Homo sapiens: one gene and its partners. The protein of the gene in region 1 purifies or fractionates together with the protein of each later gene. This does not show direct contact. Each region holds a gene or a part of one and is shown in the gene's direction. Other genes may lie near its edges.

Region 1 (5,628 bases):
CCCTGCCTGGAGCTATAGTGAGGATAAAATGGGGACCTTCATCTTTCAAATATTTCTTTTCTTAGTTTTTTTTTTTTTTAATTTATTCCATGCTGTGCCCTTCCGCTCCTCTCTCCCATCCTGCAGAATAAGTTATTTGCTTACCCTTTTTTTTTTTTGAGACAGAATCTTGCTCTGTCACCCAGGCTGGAGTGCAGTGGCAAGCTCAACTTCCTGGGCTCAAGTGATCCTCCCACCTTAGCCTCCCTAGTAGCTGGGACTACAGGCGTGTGCCACCACACCCCATTAATTTTTGTATCTTTGGTAGAGACAGGGTTTTGCTCTGTTGCCCAGATTACCCATATTTTTATACTGTTATGGCATGTGGTATAGTAGGAAAAGACCAGATTTAAACATTTTTTATTTTTTATTTTTTAGACGGAGTCTCGCTCTGTTGCCCAGACTGGAGTGCAGTGGCGCAATCTCGGTTCACTGCATCCTCCGTCTCCCGGATTCAAGCAATTCTGCCTCAGCCTCCTGAGTAGCTGGGATTACAGTCGTGTGCCACCACACCTGGCTACTTTTTGTATTTTTAGTAGAGATGGGGTTTCACCATGTCGGTCAGGCTGGTCTCCAACTCCTGACGTCATGATCCCCCTGCCTTGTCCTCCCAAAGTGCTGGGATTACAGGTGTGAGCCACTGCGCCTAGCCAAAATTTTTTCATTGTAGTAAACAAATATATAATATAGGCCAGGTACATTGGCTCATGTGTGTAATCCCAGCACTTTGGGAGACCAAGATGGGATGATCACCTGAGCCAGTTTGAGTCAAGCCTGGGCAGTGTGGTGGAGCCCCAGCTCTACTACAAAAAAAAAAAAAAAAAACATTAACCAGGTGTGGAAATGCATGCCTGTAGTCCCAGCTGCTCAGGAACCCGAGGTGGGAAGATCGCTTGAGCCTGGCAAGTCAAGGCTGCAGTGAGCCATGATCACACCATTACACTGCAGCCTGGGCAACAGAATGAGACCCTGCCTCAAACTATATACATATATAAATATATATATGTAAACATAAAATTTACCATCTTAACCATTTATAAGTGTATAGGTCAGGCCCAGTGTGGTGGCTTACACCTGTAATCCCAACACTTTGGGAAGCTGAGGTGAGCGGATTGTTTGAGCCCAGGAGTTTGAGACCAGCCTGGGCAACATGGTGAAACCCTGTATCTTAAAAAAAAAAGGTGTATAGTTAAGTAATGTGAAGTATATTCCCATTGTTGTGAAACAGATTTCCAGAACTTTTTCATCTTGCAAATCTGAAACTACCATTGAACAACTTCCCATTTCTCCCTCCCAGTCCTTGGTAACCATTCTTCTCCTTTCTGTTTTTGTGAGTTTGACTACTTTAGATAACCCCAGTATAGTAATACAGTATTTGTCTTTTTGTGACTGGCTTATTTTACTTAACATAATGTCCTCAAGGATCATCTGTGGTATAGCATGTGATGGAATTTCCTTGGAAAAAAAAATCAGATTTTAAAGTAAGGTGGACCTGAATTGAATCCTAGCAGGGTGACCAAGATTAAGTTATTTAACCTCTCTTAACTTCAGTTTCCTTATTTCTAAAGAGGTGATGATAACATCTATCCCATAAAGTTGTTAGGAGGATTAAGTGAAATAATATGTTTTAAAAGCGTAGCCAGTGTGGCATATAGGAATAGTTGTTTAGTAAATAGTTGCTCTCAGCTAGTAGTTAATTAGACTGGGCTTCCTGAAGAGACTGTGTCTTATTTTTCATTGTATCTGCAGAGCCTGAAACCTTGCCAGCCATTTGATATTCAGGAAATTGCTTAAATTGAAATACTGTGTCCTCAGTCTAATTTCTGTCTGTACTTGCCAAGCAATCTCATGGCTTTAAAGAGTTCCAGAGTCAGATTACCTAGGTTTGAAACCTAGCTCTGGTATTTACTTACTATGTGTCTTTAGGCAAGTTATTTAATCTGTTTATGCCTCAGTTTATTTATTTGTAAAGTAAGTATCATAGGACCTGACCTTCCAAGGTTGTGGTGAGGACCAAGTGAGTTGTACATATAAAGCACTTAAAATAGTGACTGAAACATACTTTCTCAGCTATAAGTACATAGCTTACTGCTATAAAGATTAGCTTGTATTGTTATTAATAACTGCTCTATACGCTGACGGATCCTAAGTTTCTGTTTCCATTCGTGTTTCTCCTTTTAGCTCTGGATGGGTAGGTATATCCAATTGCCTTCTAGCATTTCCACTTTGATGTCTAATGGGCATCTCAAACTTAGTATGTCGAAAGCCAAAATCCTCTCCCTTTTCCATCAGACCTGATCTTCTCCATCTCCCTAAATGGGGCATAAGGGAAGCCTGAGTCATGACTACTGGCCACATAATTTGTAATGGGTCAATTCTACTTGGATTTTAGTTTGCTTTATTTTCTTCCCTTCGTTTTGTTCTGCCCTCTGTCAAGGCAATAAAATATGCTGGGGTGATACTTTGGAGTTTACTGAGCCTTTTCATATTCATCAGCACATTTGATGCTTAATGCAAATCAGATCTTATAAATCCTTTGCTTAAAACTCTCCAGCCTCATCTCATTGCAGTTGATAGAATCAATTCTGGATTCCTTACCATGGGCGTACAAGGCCCCAAATGATCAGTACGAGTTGAAGGAAAGGATAGACTGAGTAAACGCTGGGCTCTAGGATAGTGCAGCTCACATTACAGGTCATGACCCGCCATCCCTGGATGCCCTTCAGTTTGGCAATCTGGTGACAGACTGGGTTGTGGGATGCTGTTATATTTCCCACATGGCAGTCGTTGCTTCCTTTATGATTATTGGCATATCTAAATGCCCCTGAGTGTTCCTTACTTTATATTTTTTCTTTAGATTCACTGACTTTTTTTTTTTTTTTGAGATGGAGTCTCGCTCTGTTGCCCAGGCTGGAGGGCAATGGTGCAATCTCAGCTCACTGCAAGCTCCGCCTCCCAGGTTCATGCCATTCTCCTGCCTCAGCCTCCCGAGTAGCTGGGACTACAGGTGCCCGCCACCACGCCTGGCTAATTTTTTTTTTTTTTTTGTATTTTTAGTAGAGACGGGGTTTCACCGTGTTAGCCAGGATGGTCTCGATCTCCTGACCTCATGATCCGCCCACCTCGGCCTCCCAAGGTGCTGGGATTACAGGTGTGAGCCACTGCGCCTGGCTGACTTCTTTTTTTTGTGAGATGGAGTCTCGTGCTGTTGCCCAGGCTGGAGTGCAGTGCACAGTCTCGGCTCACTGCAACCTCCGCTTCCCGGGTTCAAGCGATTCCCCTGCCTCAGCCTCCTGAGTAGCTGGGACTATAGGCATGTGCCACCATGCCCGGCTACTTTTTGTATTTTTAGTAAAGACAGGGTTTCACCATGCTGGCTAGGCTGGTCTCAAACTCTTGATCTCTTGATCCACCCACCTCAGCCTCCCAAAGTGCTGGGATTACAGATGTGAGTCGCCGTGCCCAGCCAGATTCACTAACTTTTAAAAAAAATTTCATTAGGCACTACTTGTTTTAGCCTCATTCTAACCATTAGTATTTATGAAACCTAGGCATTTAAGTCAAACAAATCTTACCTGGCTTTTCAAAGGTAATTTGATACTGAAAAACTCCTGATTAGGATAAAGTCTTATTCATATATATATACACACACACACACACACACACACACACACACACACACACACACACACACATATATACACACACACACATATATATACACATATATATATACACACACATACACACACACACACACACACACACACACACACACACACACACACATATGCCATTCATTTCAATGGGAAGTTTTCGTATTCACAAGCCCTTAAATTTGCTCCTAATTTTACTGAATCATACCCCATTAAAGGACACAAAAGTATTCAGTGGTTAACATGTATTGTCAGAATAACCCAACAAGGTATTTTATCTTTATTATCCTTTAAGATATCTATTTAGGCTGGGTGCGGTGGCTCACACCTGTAATTCTAGCACTTTGGGAGGCCGAGCTAGACGGATTCTTTAAGCTCAGGAGTTCAAGACCAACCTGGGCAAGATGGGTGAAACTCCATCTTTACTAAAAATACAAAAAATTATCCGGGCGTGGTGGTGCGTGCCTGTAATCCCAGCTACTTGGTGGCAGTGGTGGTGGTGTGGGGGGCTGGGAGGGGGAAGGGGGCAGGGCTGAGGTGGGAGGATCACTTGAGCCCAGGAGACGGAGGTTGCAGTGAGATTGCGCGAGACCCTTGCATTTAGTGTGGTATTTTGAGGCATTAGATGTCTTACATTTAGGATTAAAGAAACAAATAAGATGCACAGTTATCTTCATGGAATTTAGCCTTTAGTTATTTTTAAAAACAATAAAATCAGTGGAAACTGTAAATGTCTAGAAATGTCATATTTGCTAAACAGGTTGACAGTTTAGAGGGTATGATGTAAGAGATTATCACTGCTGTAAACTGTTAAACCACAAGTACTTCAAGAGAAAACCCATGTGATACCTGCCAGTAATTCAACTGGGAAGATGACTGAATGGTGGCACTTTTGTCACAGTGCTGAGCTGTTCACAAGGAAAACAAAATTCTAATGATTTTTTTTTTTTTTTTTAGACAGGGTCTTGCTCTGTTGCCCAGGCTGGAGTGTAGTGGTGAAAAAAAACTACTGAAACCTCCGCCTCCTGGGCTCAAGCAATCCTCCCACCTCAGCCTCCCGAGTATCTGGGACTATAGGCGCATGCCACCATACGCAGCTCATTTTTGTATTTTTTTGTAGAGATAAGGTTCTGCCATGTTGCCCAGGCTGGTCTTAAACTCCTGGGATCAAGCAATGGGCCTACCTTGGCCTCCCAAGTGCTAGGATATGAGTGTAAGCCGCTGTGCCCAGCCCCAAATTATTATTTTTAAATGAGAGTACATGCCTTGTAAGACAATGTATAAATAGTAAAGAAATTGCTTGTGAAGTCAAATATTTGGACTGTGATTAGATCTCTGCGTATCATGGAGCTTGTAACAAAAAAACAGCAGTGCCCTGCCTGCTTTGCACCTCTAAGTTCCATACTCCTAATGCTGTTCAGTGTCCATACTTAGCTATTTCTTTTGCAAGAGAAGGATCCAGGAAACAGGAGAGCCAGTATTTCTAAATAACATGGTTATAAAGCTGTTTCTTTTCACTTTTAGATACTATCTATTTTCTTCGCTCTTGAAAGACTAGGATTTAATTCACACATTCGATTCCTTCTTACTCGTCTCCACTAGTCTACCAATGTAGTTATATCACAGCTTTGGCTGTTGTTAAGTATTTACATTATGATGTTAGCATTATTATTTACAGCAGGGCCATATATTGTACAATTATATTTGTTTTATATAATTTTTTTGTAGTGTTAAAAACAGTCCTCTTCCATTTTTTAAATTGAAGGATAAATATACATATACCCTGTATATATATACATATACATATATATGCATATAAACATATATACATATACACATATATGCATATAAACATATATACATATACACATATATGCATATAAACATATATACATATACACATATATGCATATAAACATACATACATATACAC
Region 2 (4,817 bases), on another chromosome or scaffold:
TCTATGCCCGGCTAATTTTTTTGTATTTTTTGTAGAGATGGGGTTTCGCCATGTTGCCCAGGCTAGTCTTGAATTCCTGAGCTCAAGCAGTCCTCCTGCCTTGGCCTCCTAAAGTGCTGGAATTCCAGATGTGAGCCACCGTGTCTAGCCTGGGCCGTATTTTTATTTTTTTTTTAATATCTTACAACTCAATAATACGTAGTTAAACAAAAAGACTTGAACATTTGTTTCTCAAAAGAAAATGTAAGAATGGCCAGTATGCACATGAAAAGATATTCAGTGTCTTTAGTTATTAGGGAAATACAAGTTAAAACCACTGAGATTTTACTGCACTGCCAGAATTAAAGACTGATGACACCATGTGTTGGCAAGGATGTATAGAGCAGCTGGCACCCTTATACATTGGAAAACCTTATAACCACTTTGGAAAACAGTTTGGCAGTTTCTTGTAAATGAAATATCTATTTACCATATGACACAGGATTTTCACTTGTAGCTGTTTATCCAACAGCCAGGAAAACATACATTTACACAAAGACTTACGCATGAATGTTCATAGCTGTTTTATTCATAGTTTAAAAACTGGAAGCAACCCACGTGTCTATCATACATGAAACAACGTGCCCACAATGGAATACTATCCAGCAGTAAAATGGAGCAAACTACTTATACATAAAATAACCTCAATGCCATTATACTTAGCAAAAGAAGCTAGCACAAAAGAGAATATAATTTTATACATGTATATAAAATTCTAGGACAAACAGAACTATACAAGGTTAGGGTTGGGGTGCTTGGGGCCACAGGGGGAGGCAGAGGAGTGATGGAAATGTTGTGTCTGCGTTGGAGCAGTGGTTACACAGGTGTATCATTTGTCCAAACTCATCAAACTATACACTTAAAATATGTGCAGCACAGCACATTTTATGTAAATTTTACTTTTATGAAGTGAGTTGTGTAAATTAGGCACTAATATATTTGGTTTTTCAGCTTATCTCTGAGCTGTGGATGAAGAAACTCAGCACAAGAGAGATGAAGTAATTTGCATATGATGGCACTATTAGTAAATGGTAGTCTGCATTCATTTAAAAAGATAGTCAAGTGTTTTCGTTGTGTCATTGTTTAATCTTTTTATAAGCATTCCAGCTGGGTTACATATGGCTCTTAAGATTTCTTCACCCTAGTAGCTTTTAAAATCAATATGTTAAAAACATTTTTTTAATTACTTTTATTGTTTTTGCATAGTTGCAAGCAGTGATTTTAAAACCTGTCATTGTTTTATAACACATTAATGAAAATTTAGTCATTGAAACTTGGATGTTTCAGATGATCCTCCGATTCTCCACTCCGGGTTCTAGATACGCTTTTCTGGATCTTTCAGTCTAAAGATAGAACTTTTCTTCACCCAGACTAATTTGTAGGAATTTCTTCTCCTTTGGGGTATCATTACAGCACTGACTCTGTCTTTTTCACTTTGCTTCTTTGGCTCTGTGCTTTTTACCTGTAGCTGTACCTTAATTTTCTCAGGGCTCACATGCCATCATTTTGGATATTTAATACCTTCATTTCTCTCCCTTAGACATTCCAACTCTGGCAGCTGCTTCTAAAGTATCCATGCTAAATTTCCTTTGTCTCTAAATTTAGATTTTGAGATTCACTGTTGTGCTTCTAGTTTTATTCAGCAAATACTGAATGAGCAACAACGTCTGGCACAATAATAGGTACATACTCAGTAAACATTGGACCGCTGGATTAATTATTCTGGTCTTAGTTTGGTGAATTATCTAGATGTAATATATTTCCCATCTTATGTGTTTTCATTTTAATGTGTATGTTCATCAGAGAAATTTCTGATATTTTTGTGGGGTTTTTCCTTCTCCATGCCTGATACCCAGTGTTAGTCAGAAATAGAGTTGTCATAACTCATCTGATACCTTAATGTTTCAGCATCCACCTCCAGATCGACAGGCAGTACCTGGAAGACCAGGCCCCTTTCCCTCCAAGCAGCAAGTAGCTGATGAAGATGAAATATGGAAGCAAAGACGAAGACAACAATCAGAAATTTCTGCAGCAGTAGAACGTGCTCGTAAACGGCGTGAAGAGGAAGAGCGAAGAATGGAAGAACAAAGGAAGGCAGCTTGTGCGGAGAAACTGAAACGATTGGATGAGAAGCTTGGCATCCTGGAAAAACAACCATCTCCAGAGGAAATTAGGGAAAGGGAGCGAGAAAAAGAACGGGAGCGTGAGAAAGAACTTGAAAAAGAACAAGAACAGGAGCGAGAGAAGGAGAGGGAAAAAGACAGAGAGAGACAGCAGGAAAAGGAGAAAGAGCTGGAGAAGGAGCAGGAAAAACAAAGAGAAATGGAGAAAGAAAGAAAGCAAGAAAAAGAAAAAGAACTAGAACGGCAGAAAGAAAAGGAAAAAGAACTACAAAAGATGAAAGAACAAGAAAAGGAATGTGAGCTGGAGAAGGAAAGGGAAAAATTAGAGGAGAAAATTGAACCCAGAGAACCTAATTTAGAGCCCATGGTAGAAAAACAAGAAAGTGAAAACAGCTGTAATAAAGGTTTGATAGTATTCTTCATTCTCTTTTAAAAACTTTACAAAGAGCTTTATGTTGGTTACAGTTTGGGGTTTGTATATTTTAAATATATGTAATCAATATAAAAGTGATTGTTTTATGATAGCATTTGCAGTACAAAATATGGGCTAGAGCCGTGTTTTCTAATTCTGTATATGAACAGACGTCTCTGAAGTGTTTCTCAGTTATTAGATGAGCTTCATTTCTGTTTTATCTGCAGAATTGTATTGGCTTCATAGTCACATATACTGATTCTCCCCCTGCTTTTTTCTGACTCCAAGACATTTAACTAAACAAAATCTCATTTGTTCACATGCATTAATACCTCTAAAACTGAACTGGCATAGAGCTTAATGAGTATGTTGGATTATCATAATTAAATGACTGCACCTAGTTCATAATTTCAGGTTTGCTGTTTAATCAGTTTAAACATGCAAGCTTCCATGGTGTAGTTGATATGCTATTAAACTGTAATTTCCTGGAGTAATTATACTTTAAAATAAAATTCTTTTTCTAGATCTAATCAACTTTTTTGTTCTTCTCCGAGTTGGCTTGTAGACTGATTAATGGCATTCAAATATAGTATAAAGCCTTGGCAAAGTTAAAGTTCAGGGTTTTCGTTTTTTGTTTGTTGTTGTTGTGGTGGTGGTGGTTGTTGTTGTTTTTGAGACAGAGTCTCTCTCTGTCTCCAGGCTGGAGTGCAGTGGCGGAATCTCAGCTCACTGCAAACTCCACCTCCCAGGTTCAAGTGATTCTCCTGCCCCAGCCTCCCAAGTAGCTGGGGCTACAGGCGCGTGCCACCGCACCCAGCTAATTTTTGTATTTTTAGTAGAGACGGGGTTTCACTATGTTGGCTAGCATAGCCTCAATCTCTTGACCTCGTGATCTGCCTGCCTCGGCCTCCCAAAGTACTGGGATTGTAGACGTGAGCCACCGCGCCCAGCCTAAAGTTTAGTTTTAATGAACGACTTGAATTAAAATAGAAATGCAGTTTTATTTCAGTGTATTTTCTGATGTGGAAATATTGTAAGTTTTCTAACCTGACGTCTCATGCTCTTTTCTACAAGGCACTGCTGCTTAAAATAATAAGAATGTGTTTTTAAAAATAAAGTTTTTATTTATATGCAGGGTTACCTTCAAACTTGGCTCTTAATTTAACTATAAAGGAGTATGAGTATTTTATCTTTAATTTTTTTAATGAAATAAGGCCTGTATGGACCATTTGTTAAGACTCTAAGATTTCAGATTTTTTTCATATTAATCAATCTAGAGAGACTTTGCTATTGAATAGTGGGCTTATATTACATAAGTACTTATGAAGATTGCTCATAACACCAAAATAGTGAAATAAAGTGTTCACAAGAGAAAGGAAAACATTATCATAGTTTAATAAGTTTTATTTGTGCTTTTATTTTCATTCACATTTTATATATTCTCTCTCATGGCAATTTAATTTTAGCTTGTTTATCAGTGAGATGTACCCATGTGATTTTTTTTTCCCCCCTCAATTCTGATACTAGACACATACAATTTTTTTGTTTGTTTTAATGCTCTCTGAGATGTTCTCAAGACACACGTGATTTTAAAGTCAGTGCCTATGTGGCTCTTTTTCCTCCAGTATATTATTTTCCATTCTTTTTTTTTTGGCTGTGTTGCCCAGGCTGGTCTCAAACTCCCAGGCTAAAGTGATCCTCTCACCTCAGCCTCCTGAGTTACTGTTATTACAGTCATGCACCACCATGACCTGCTCACTCTTTTACAACATTCTTAATATTGAATGTAATCCAAGCAATAAAAATGTTATTTGTGATTCTTAACAGCATGCTTTTACATTGGGAGATAAACTTCCATTTTAAATTCATTACTAGTCATTTGAGAAAAGAATTTGTAACAAGCGTGGATTTGTAATTGTGACAAATGACATTCTAGAATGAATTATGTTTGAAGATAACTAGTGATCACTCTGTTGTCTTCAGACTTAAACTCATTAGTTTTCCTTACAGATAATAGTCCCTTTACCCAATAAATAACTAAATAAACCAACATGCTCTCTTTTTAAGTATTTATAGGCCATTTGTGTTTTCATGTAGATTTTAATGAACTACCAGTAAATACTGACAATTACATTGATGTTTATTGAAACAAATAAAAAATATGTGGAGTTGGAAATGTTTCATTATTTAAAAAAAAAAAACATAGATTTTATATGATGAAGCATTTGGATCTCTGCTCTCCA
Region 3 (4,817 bases), on another chromosome or scaffold:
ACACTCGACTATCGAGATCTTTCCCGGTTCATGTGTAAATTTCTTTGGGGGCAGAATTTGCCTTGTTCATCACATTCCTCAGTGCTTGGCATGTGAGAAACACCCAGAAATTTGTTGAGCTGGCTCCAGAGGCACGGGTATGTATGTACTTGTTTCTTTCTGTGATGAAGGTGCCAACACTCTCTCTGGGACCTTGTCTTCATAGAGCCACTCCCCTGCCACAACAGCAAACACTTTCTTTACCATAGTTGATGAAACAGACCAGATATGTGAATGGATGCATTGTATACTTTGGGGGACCATTGCAATCAGTGTGCCCTTGCCTTCTAGCTTTGGGTGATGTGGGCTACCTTGCAGCATACACCTGGGTGTTCCTGATAACATTTTATCTGAAAGGGGACAAAGTATTTTCAGGTTCTCCTTTCTAAGTGTTTCTGAGCAGGGCTTGGAGGAAAAAGTAGCCCCATTGGAAGTGTTCAGATTTGCTGCCTTGGTTTTGGTGATGGTGGCAGATCATTCCAGGTGTTTCCTATGACTCTTTAATGTTGAAATGCACCACTGGGAAACAACTCTGGCCCATTGCAGGGGGATGCAGTAATGCAAATAAATACTGGTGACCTGTAGCAGTGATGGGGGAAGCATCTGAAAACAGGGTAGGGGGATTGTTGAATTCTTACGTCTGCTGTGTCTTGCAGAGACACAAGTGTCACCACAGTGTATTTGTGTGTGTGTGTTTTCCTTAAATCATGCCTTGCCGAAATAATTGTGTTTACACTTCAAAATGCTAATCCAAACTACTGAACTGCAGTCAGGCTGAGTAAGGAATAATGGTAATCTTTTCTGTCCTCTCTGCATACTTTTTTTCCTTAGTGGGTAGGTGTTGCTTTTTGTTTTCAATCACATTGTGGTTGTTTTCAGGTATATTGAATTGTCAAAGTTGGCAGAGTAAATGTTCACAGGTTCAATATGTTCCTGCTTGGTGATGGTTGCAATTTTCTTGACAGAGGAACTAATCCTCTGGAAAATATTTTTAATTGTGAGGATCTTGGGGTGGTGTTAACTTGCAGATTCTTCCTACTTCTCCAAGGCTGTCAAATTTTCTTATCTTTTATGGCTGTGAAATGCACAGCTGTGAAGTCTATTCCAACCCTGATACCAGTAAATTGCAAAGGTCACTTTGTGTAGGTTCTCTCTTTAGGGATAAGTATTCTTTTAAAAAAGGCTTAACAATATGATTGATGGTCATTTAGAATTAACCCTCCCCTTTACTTATTGGTTCCTGGATCAGACATATGGAGTGCAATTTAATGATTATAGTTCATTACAATACTCATTTGTTTTTTGCTGGGAGATTTTTCTGGTCTCCCCTCTCTGCCCCCGCCTTTGTTTCTTCAGTAAGGTACAAAATGGCATGTAATAAATAAAATAAATATAGCCTCAAAGAGGCAGGATTCAGCTGTCAAGTGCTTATAATACTGTGTGCTGGATACAAATATCCAAAAGGAATGTTAGGGCTCTCCCGGTAGCATAGCGAGGATTGCACTTGACTTTCATTCAGCCTGGCCCTGGCCTGGTGCTGTAGGGAATACAGAGCAGAGGGAAACAGCCTTTCTCTCCAGCCTTGGGGATTGTGCAGTGCAGAAGGAACCAACACACACATGGATGCAGGAAGGGAAGCTTAGGCCGACTCCTGTAGGGGTTCCCAGGGAGGGGAATTTTACCTTCCAGCTTCCAAAATGAAGTTCATCTATCTCTGTGAATATCTTTAAGGGTAACAAGTTATCACATTCATTCACAGTTTAATTAGCTTGTAGTTTATTATGTAAGGCAGAGATGGGGAGAGCTGTTGCTCAATTTATGCTGAGGTGGCACTGGGAGGCTTTTGGTTTGTTTTTAATTTTTGTTTTTATGTGATGATGATTGAAAAGAAATGTCATTGATATTTTAATTTCATAATCTGCATCTGTCAGTACATGGAAATTATCTAGGTGGTTTTTTTCCCTCTATTCCTGTTTCTTTCATGGAATAATGGTGGATGGACGGAATTTCTCAAGTTTTTAATCCGAAACTATCTGAAAGCAAAGACTTCTTGCAGTAAAATTAGAGGTACTATTTTATAGGAAATTTTGAATTCTAGTTTTTTACAAAAGCAGTGCTGATTGATGGGCTAATCTTCCATGCATCTGTTCCAGATCAATCCAGCCTTGTGGTGCCAGGTGTGTGTCCAAAGTGATCTGGGTAATACCCACCAGGGCATCTCAGGGCACTGAGGATCAAATGAGGCCACTTGGTACTGCAGAGCAGAGTTGGGATGTTCAGCCAGGCATAAGTCATCATTCAAAAAGTTTTCCATAGGAGGAAGGACGAGAGTAAAAGAATGAAAGCAGCAGGGATTATGGGTGACCTAAAGAAAATTCTTAGAAATCTAGTTACCTGTGTTAAACACTTCACCTGTTGCTTCTATAAGTGAACAGTTTGAGTCTTTTGTGCTGTCTGCTTGTTGAGATTGAATTAGAGAGGCTAAAAGGGACAGATCTGAGAGAAAAATAATTATACCTGGAGTTTCATATAGATAACTTTTCAACTCATGAAATTACTTGTATGCAAGCTTGACTTTTTAAAAATTATCCTAATAGGCCAGGTGTGATGGCTCACGCCTGTAATCCCAGCACTTTGGGGAGGCCGAGGCAGGCGGATCACCTGAGGTCGGGAGTTTGAGACCAGCCTGACTAACATGGAGAAACCCCTTCTCTACTAAAAATACAAAAAATTAGCTGGGCATGGTGGTGCATGCCTGTAATCCCAGCTACTCGGGAGGCTGAGGCAGGAGAATCGCTTGAACCCGGGAGGTGGAGGTTGCGGTGAGCCGAGATTGCACCATTTTACTCCAGCCTGGGCAACAGGAGTGAAACTCCATCTCAAAAAAAAAAAAAATTATCCTAATATACCAACTCAAATGATAACTTTTATTCTACTGAGAGATGTTTTTTGTGGGGTGGAGTTCTTCACTAGACCAGAGTTTATCTAAACAAAGACATCCGTTGAGTCAAAACATCGTGTCTTCACTTCATTTAGTAGCCCTACTAATCTTTGAGGAAAAAATTGACTAGGTGATTTTATTGTTTTTATTAACCAAAGAGTACTGTTTTAAGTGTATTCTCCATAAAGTAGAGTTAGACTTCTTCAGGTTCAAATCACTACCTGGTAAGGGTTTATGTCCCTTGGAAAGTATATTAACTGTTTTATGCCATTTTGAGCCTTGCATGCATGGGGTTTATATTGTGAAATACCTTAGGTACCCAGAGAAGAGTACCAGTGACTTTTTTTGCATTTTTTTTTGTGATAAAAACATACACAACATATAATTCACCATTTTAACCATTTGTAAGTGTACAATTCAGTGGCTTTAAGTACATTCACAGTGTTTTGCAACCATCACCATTATCCATATCCAGAACTTTTCATCATCCCAAAAGGAAACTCTGTACCCATTAAACAATAACACCCATTTTTTTTTCCTCCCTGGTAAACCTCTATTCCTAGTGACTTAATTTTTTTTGTTTGTTTGTTTTTGTTCTTGTTTTTGTTTGTTTTTTTTTTTAAAGAAAGACTTACTCTGGTCTACAAAAGCTGCTAGCTGCTTTTTACTGTCCTGGTCTTGAAGTTATAAATTTGGACCTTAAGTGTTGATGTCTTATTTTAACTTAAGTTTGTACTGCCTGTTAGCTGTCCCATATATGGTTCTTTTCTGTCACTCAGCAAATGTGCAGTGCCCTAGCCCTACGCCCAGCTCTGGGCTTGGTGCCAGTAAGCACCCAGATGTGGAGATGCTGGATGAGGGAATAACCCATGGCAAGAGCTTGTCCTCCAGGAGGGAAGGGTCATCCCCCCATATCTTACCCCCAACACTTCACAGATCATGGTTGCTTTTTATTTTTTATTTTTAATGAAATGTATGCATTTAATTTCCTTGATAGCATTTGGAATAAACTGTAATTTTATTTTTTAAATTACTTATTTTTATACTCACAGGTACAGTTTATTACAGGGAAAGGATGCAGGTTAAAATCAGTCAAGGGAAAAAGCATATAGGGCAGAGTCCAGGAACGTTTTTCATTGTGGAGCTTCTAGTTATCCTCTCCCCGTGGAGTGTGCACAACATTACTTTCCTGGCAACAACGTGTGACAATACACATGGAGTATTGCCAACCAGCGAAGTTTGGCCAAGCCTTGGGCTGCAGAATTTTTACTGGGGCTCATCACATAGACATGGTCGCCTATCCACAGGGCAGATCTCAGTTTCCAGGCCCTGAGTAGGCTGTGCTGATACCACATGGCCTAAAGCGCTCAGGCTGAATCACACTGTTAGGCTTTCCAGTGTGATCCAACGCCCTCAGGTAAACAAAGACACTCTTATCAGGCATGACCTTCGAAAGGGTTAGAAATTGCCTCCAGAACGTCAAGGACTAAAGCCAGACCTCTTTTGAGGCAAGGTAAACCGGAGTTTTAAAAGGTTTGAAGGAAAAAGAAAGCTTACAGAATTTTTATTCACCACCATTGTCCCACTTCCAAATCTTTTTGTGTTGCTGTGATAACAGTGGATGTTTATCCAGTGCTTACTATGGGTTAGGCACTATTGGAAGGGGTTTGCGTATATCCTCTCATTTAATCCTCACCACAGTCCTATACGATCAGTACTACTGTTTATCCATAGCCATAAGCCTACAAATTTAGGCCCAGAAAGCTTGTATCACTTGCCTGAGGTCCCATGACTATCAGATGGGACTGGGATTTGAGCCCAGGTCTGACCTCAGAGC
Region 4 (4,817 bases), on another chromosome or scaffold:
TGGGGGACTGTTCCAAGTTGAAGGAGTCTAAAAAGAAGTAATCCCTTTTTCTTTTTATTAAGGTAAAAAGAATCTTAATCTGGGTTCCCTCACTATTCGTAACATGAGCATTTTGCTCACTAACTTGGGCTCCAATGCCTCCAGCCAGAATAGCAGCATACAGACGTGTTCTTTTAAAGTTTATACTTATTCCTTTTTGTAAAAGATTATTATACCAACACTTTTAGTGAAAATTAAAAGTGTTCTCAATCTTTAAACCCTCTTGAGTAAATTTAAACCCTCTTAAGACTCACATCTCTATTAGGGATAAGACTAAACTTCTTCCTTTTTTATCCTTTCTTTTACCCTAGACTTCTCAGATGTACTTTTAGGGTTGTCTTTTTATTGTAATTTTGACAGTAAGGTAAAAATTAGTTCAGTCTTTGTGTGTGTGTGTGTGTGTGTGTGTGTGTGTGTGTGTGTGTGTTTTAGGTTTAGGAGTCAGTCAGACCTGGTTTTGAACTCTGGTTGTCCTAGATGACTGATTGTCACCTTTTATAGGTGATCTAATCAGTATCTCAATTTCCTCACCTAATTTTTTAATAACATTTATCTAAGTCCAGTGGTAATAGCAGCTAACTCTGTCTCTGTTCATACTCTTAAGTTAGCTTTGTTTAGTGGGTGATTTTTAAGCCTTTTTAATGCAGTGTTCTGTTGTTCAGTATTGACGGTGTTTTAATTTTTTAAATGTATCGTGTTCTGGTATTTTGAGGATTAAATGTGGAAAGGCATGCCAGAATGTGTAGTTCATTACGTAGTATATTGTAGGCATTCACTCTACCCATAGTTCTGAACTCCAGGTTTGTTGATATCTATGTGTCTATTAGGTCTGTGCCCTAGGGGAGCTTAGTCCTAATCAGGCCTTCTTTTTTGATATCTAGTCTTCTTTCCATTTTCTCCTAACTAGTTTCTCGTACTTTCCATCTCTCCACCACTGCCACCTTTCTGCTACTACATTAAGCTCAAAATCCCCAATTTAAACATCTTATAAACCACTTTCAAAACAAATAAATGGGAGAGAGATAGACTTGAAGTCCACCTAAGGAAACACAACGTAAGTCCTAATTGGACTTAAGAACATTAACTTTTTGCACTTTATTATCATTATTTTTCTTTACTTGCCTCAGTCGTTAGTTACTCCCCCACTGGTACATTTAAAAAAATGTCTTAGAAACTCTTTGCCTATTTCTCACATTTGGCACTTGGCATATGCTATCTTGTTCATCTTCTGTATCCTATGTCTCCAAGTCTACTCCTTGTACCGGGAAGTGATACAGTATCTTAATCCGTCTTTATATTCCAATACCAGGCTCAGTACCCTGACCACAGTAGTTATTTAGCAGCTTAAAGTAAACCAAAACAGAAGTACAAACATGAAAGACAGCGGCCAAAACAACACTGTTATAAAAATTCTCTGGGATCAATGAAACAGTCTACAAATGATAGGTTTTGTTTGGTTTGTTTTGAGACACAGTCTCATTCTGTCACCCAGGCTGGAGTGCAGTGGTACAATCTCGGTTCACTGTAACCTTTGCTTCCCAAGTTCAAGCAATTCTCCTGCCTCAGTCTCCTGAGTAGCTAGGATTACAGGCGTGTACCACTACACCCGGCTAATTTTTGTATTTTTAGTAGAAACGGTTTCACCATGTTGGTCAGGCTGATCTCGAACTCCTGACCTCAAGTGATCTGCCCGCCTTGGCCTCCTGAATTGCTGGGATTACAGTCATGAGCCACTGTACCCGGCCCCGATAGGTGATTTTTTAATGTAAATATACGTATAGCACTATTTTGTATGCCTAGATGGCTTGTCAAGAAGAATGATTCTGTAAGCTGTTATAATGGGGAATAAATATTAATGACTCAAAAAATTTATAAGCTATCACTCACCTGAAAACTTCATCATAGAAAACCCTTCAGATAGGACAGTTTTAATGTAATAGGTCATATTTCTTTAGAAACTGTTGTGCATGTCCAGTTACTTAAGACATCAGCTTGAGTAATATGAGGGAGATGGATGAAACGAAATAGCTTCATTGTTTCAAAACTGCCACAGAACTAGATATAATTAAAACTGAATGGAGGGTAAACAAATCCACTTAGACTCTTTAAAAAGGTTTAAAATATAGTTCATATTAATATAGCCATTCCAACCATCGTTTATTATTGTTTGCATTATTTGGCATATCTTGTTCTATATGTTTAACCTATCTTTATTTTTAAAGGGAGTTTCTTGTAGACAGGCATATAATTCAGTCTTTCTTTAAAATCCAGTTTGATAATCTCTTTTAATTGGTGTGCACGATTATTTACATTATTTACATTTAATATAATAATGTTTGTTCCTCTATTTTCTTCCTTTTTTGGGAGGTATGGGGAGAGACAAGGTCTCACTCTGTCCCCTGGCTGGAATGCTATGGGATGGCCATAGTTCCCTGCAACCTTAACCTCCTGGGCTCAAGTAATCCTCCTGCCTTAGCCTCCAGAGTACCTAGTACTACAGGCATGCCACCACACTCGGCTAATTTTTTAAATTTTTGTTAGAGATAGGTGAACAGTCTAGAGTTAATCTGTAACTAGAATAACTTGGGGAAATGAGATAAAAAACAAAAACGTATTTATTCAAGGATGACGGATTATATTTATTCCTCAGAAAATGGGAGAATGATGTTTCGGTTTTTGGATCTTTTTGGGAGACAGGAATCTCAGAGCTGTAAGGGGCTATTTGTTTAGAGATTATTTTGATACAACTTTAAGGGACTTGGATTAATATCAGGGTTATTTCTTTGGCATGGATTTGTAAGACTGTTCTCTACATCATCACATCATTTAGAATAGTTTGTTTTAGGGATGAGTTCATTCATCGTTTTTGACTCTTCATCCCTGTTTCCTTTCTCATTAACATGTCTTACTGATATACTTTTATGGTGTCGAACAAATCATATCCTGTGTTAGTCATGGTGAACATAGCAGAAGACTGGCCAGTTAGAAATTTCACTTGAAAAGGTAGTTGGCAGTTTGTAGCATTTATAATAAGATTACATTTAGGTGATAATCCGAATATCACTCAATCTCTAACAGCATTATTTTGGTCTGAGTTGTCTCTTCCAAAAACCAACTATATATACTCTTTGACAATATTTCTTTATTTTGTTAATTTATAAATCACCTGCCCTGTTTCCCTAAAACAAACTATTCTAAATGATGTGATATATTAGGTTATGTCCTAAGACATTGATAACTAGTATCTTACTAATATCAGTTTAGTTTTTCCTATTAGTGTATTTTGGGAGGAGGAACACTCCTCCCAAACACAGGTATTTTGGAACCTGGTGGAGCAGGACAGTCTTAATCCAGTTATTCTACTCTCAGGTTCTTTGCACTAAAAGGGCATGAGAGTCACTCACTAAATAGAGCTAATTTAAGAGAATGGAACATAGAGTTAGCTGCTATTTATTACCACTGGACTCAGATAAATGTTACTTAATTAGTTACATAAATACTGTAAGGATATGATGTTCAGGTGAGTTGTTGGGTAACTTATGACCCTTATAGAGATCCTTTTGTGTATTAGGCCGTTTAGTGTCAATGGTTAAGAGCATAAGGGAGCCTGATTATCTGAATTTCAGTCCCAGCTCCATCACTTGCTAGGTGTTTCCACAATAAAATGGGGGTAATGACAGTATCACTGTAAAATGAAGTTAATCTCTCAAGATCATAGTGGTTTGTTAATATATGTAGAGAGAGGGACTAAGTGTGTTTAGAATCATGCCTGACAAATAACATGTGCTATGGTTGCTAAACATATCCATAAATAATTGGGCATTCCTTTGAAGGCATGCTGTTGGATCCTAGTAATATAGTGATAAAGAAGGCAGGTTAAAAGCTTAACATTTTTGCAGTCATTTGAATCATTAAGAATGTTACCACTTCTTGTTGTTTGAATACTCATGATTTCTGGTGACTTGGATTAATATTTGTGTTATTTGTTGGTAAATTGCTAATGGGTTCCAGTCCTACTACTTAATGCTGGCTTTTCGATCTTGGGCATGTTACTTATTTTCATTGTATGTAAAATTGAGATGCCTCTTTCACCAGGTTCTATAAAAGTTAAATGAGATCATTCGTGACCTGTTAGAAAGTAGTAGCCAAAAATAATATGAAACGCTTACACAAAAATCTAGGTTATGGGCATTTGTAGCATTTGTGATATGATTACATTTAGGAAAGAATCCCAATATCTATTCATGCCTTATGCTAATGTGGCAGAATTTTTTTTTTTTTAATTTTAAGTTTGCATAGTATGTAATACAATCGGTATCTGGGTTAGAGTTGTATTTCATAGGAGTAGGATTGTGAAATGCTTCTTTAAATTATGTGTAAAATATTCATATGAGGGCACATTGATACATATACATTTATGTAACATAATTGTACTTATCTCTGAGATACCTAGAAGGATGAGTTTGTGTTTAAGAAATTCAGATAATAGGCATAGCTAGAGAAAAGAGTAGATGTCCTGTTTACACTGTGCAAGATAATTGCTTTTTTCTGTCTTGGTTTTATAATAACTACTTGTACCAATTTGTAAGGGATTAGTATGAAGAAAGTGATCAGTTCTCAAGAAACCAACGAAAGAGTAACTTTCAGCATTTGTGCAAAATAAACTAATTTCTGGAATTGAAACTCTGTAAAGTTTTAAAAATCTTGTTTAAACAGAACGGGGTAGAATTTCAGAAGCAGTGTTTTGAACATCATCCCTTTTTTCCTATTAAATCCAT

Evidence for each region. The genes of interacting proteins can lie anywhere in the genome.
Region 2: the proteins of TRPC4AP (region 1) and PRRC2C purify together in Homo sapiens (affinity purification with mass spectrometry; one large-scale study listed by BioGRID and IntAct). This does not show direct contact.
Region 3: the proteins of TRPC4AP (region 1) and CCDC6 purify together in Homo sapiens (affinity purification with mass spectrometry; 2 studies listed by BioGRID and IntAct, with this or other methods). This does not show direct contact.
Region 4: the proteins of TRPC4AP (region 1) and SCAF11 purify together in Homo sapiens (affinity purification with mass spectrometry; 2 studies listed by BioGRID and IntAct, with this or other methods). This does not show direct contact.

The regions. Positions count from the first base shown.
Region 1 is NC_000020.11:35,084,632-35,090,259, reverse strand, and holds part of TRPC4AP (short transient receptor potential channel 4-associated protein), read left to right. Parts: intron 1-5,628. UniProt on the Homo sapiens protein: Substrate-recognition component of a DCX (DDB1-CUL4-X-box) E3 ubiquitin-protein ligase complex required for cell cycle control.
Region 2 is NC_000001.11:171,530,396-171,535,212, forward strand, and holds part of PRRC2C (protein PRRC2C), read left to right. Parts: intron 1-1,947; coding exon 1,948-2,566; intron 2,567-4,817. UniProt on the Homo sapiens protein: Required for efficient formation of stress granules.
Region 3 is NC_000010.11:59,895,374-59,900,190, reverse strand, and holds part of CCDC6 (coiled-coil domain-containing protein 6), read left to right. Parts: intron 1-4,817.
Region 4 is NC_000012.12:45,979,392-45,984,208, reverse strand, and holds part of SCAF11 (protein SCAF11), read left to right. Parts: intron 1-4,817. UniProt on the Homo sapiens protein: Plays a role in pre-mRNA alternative splicing by regulating spliceosome assembly.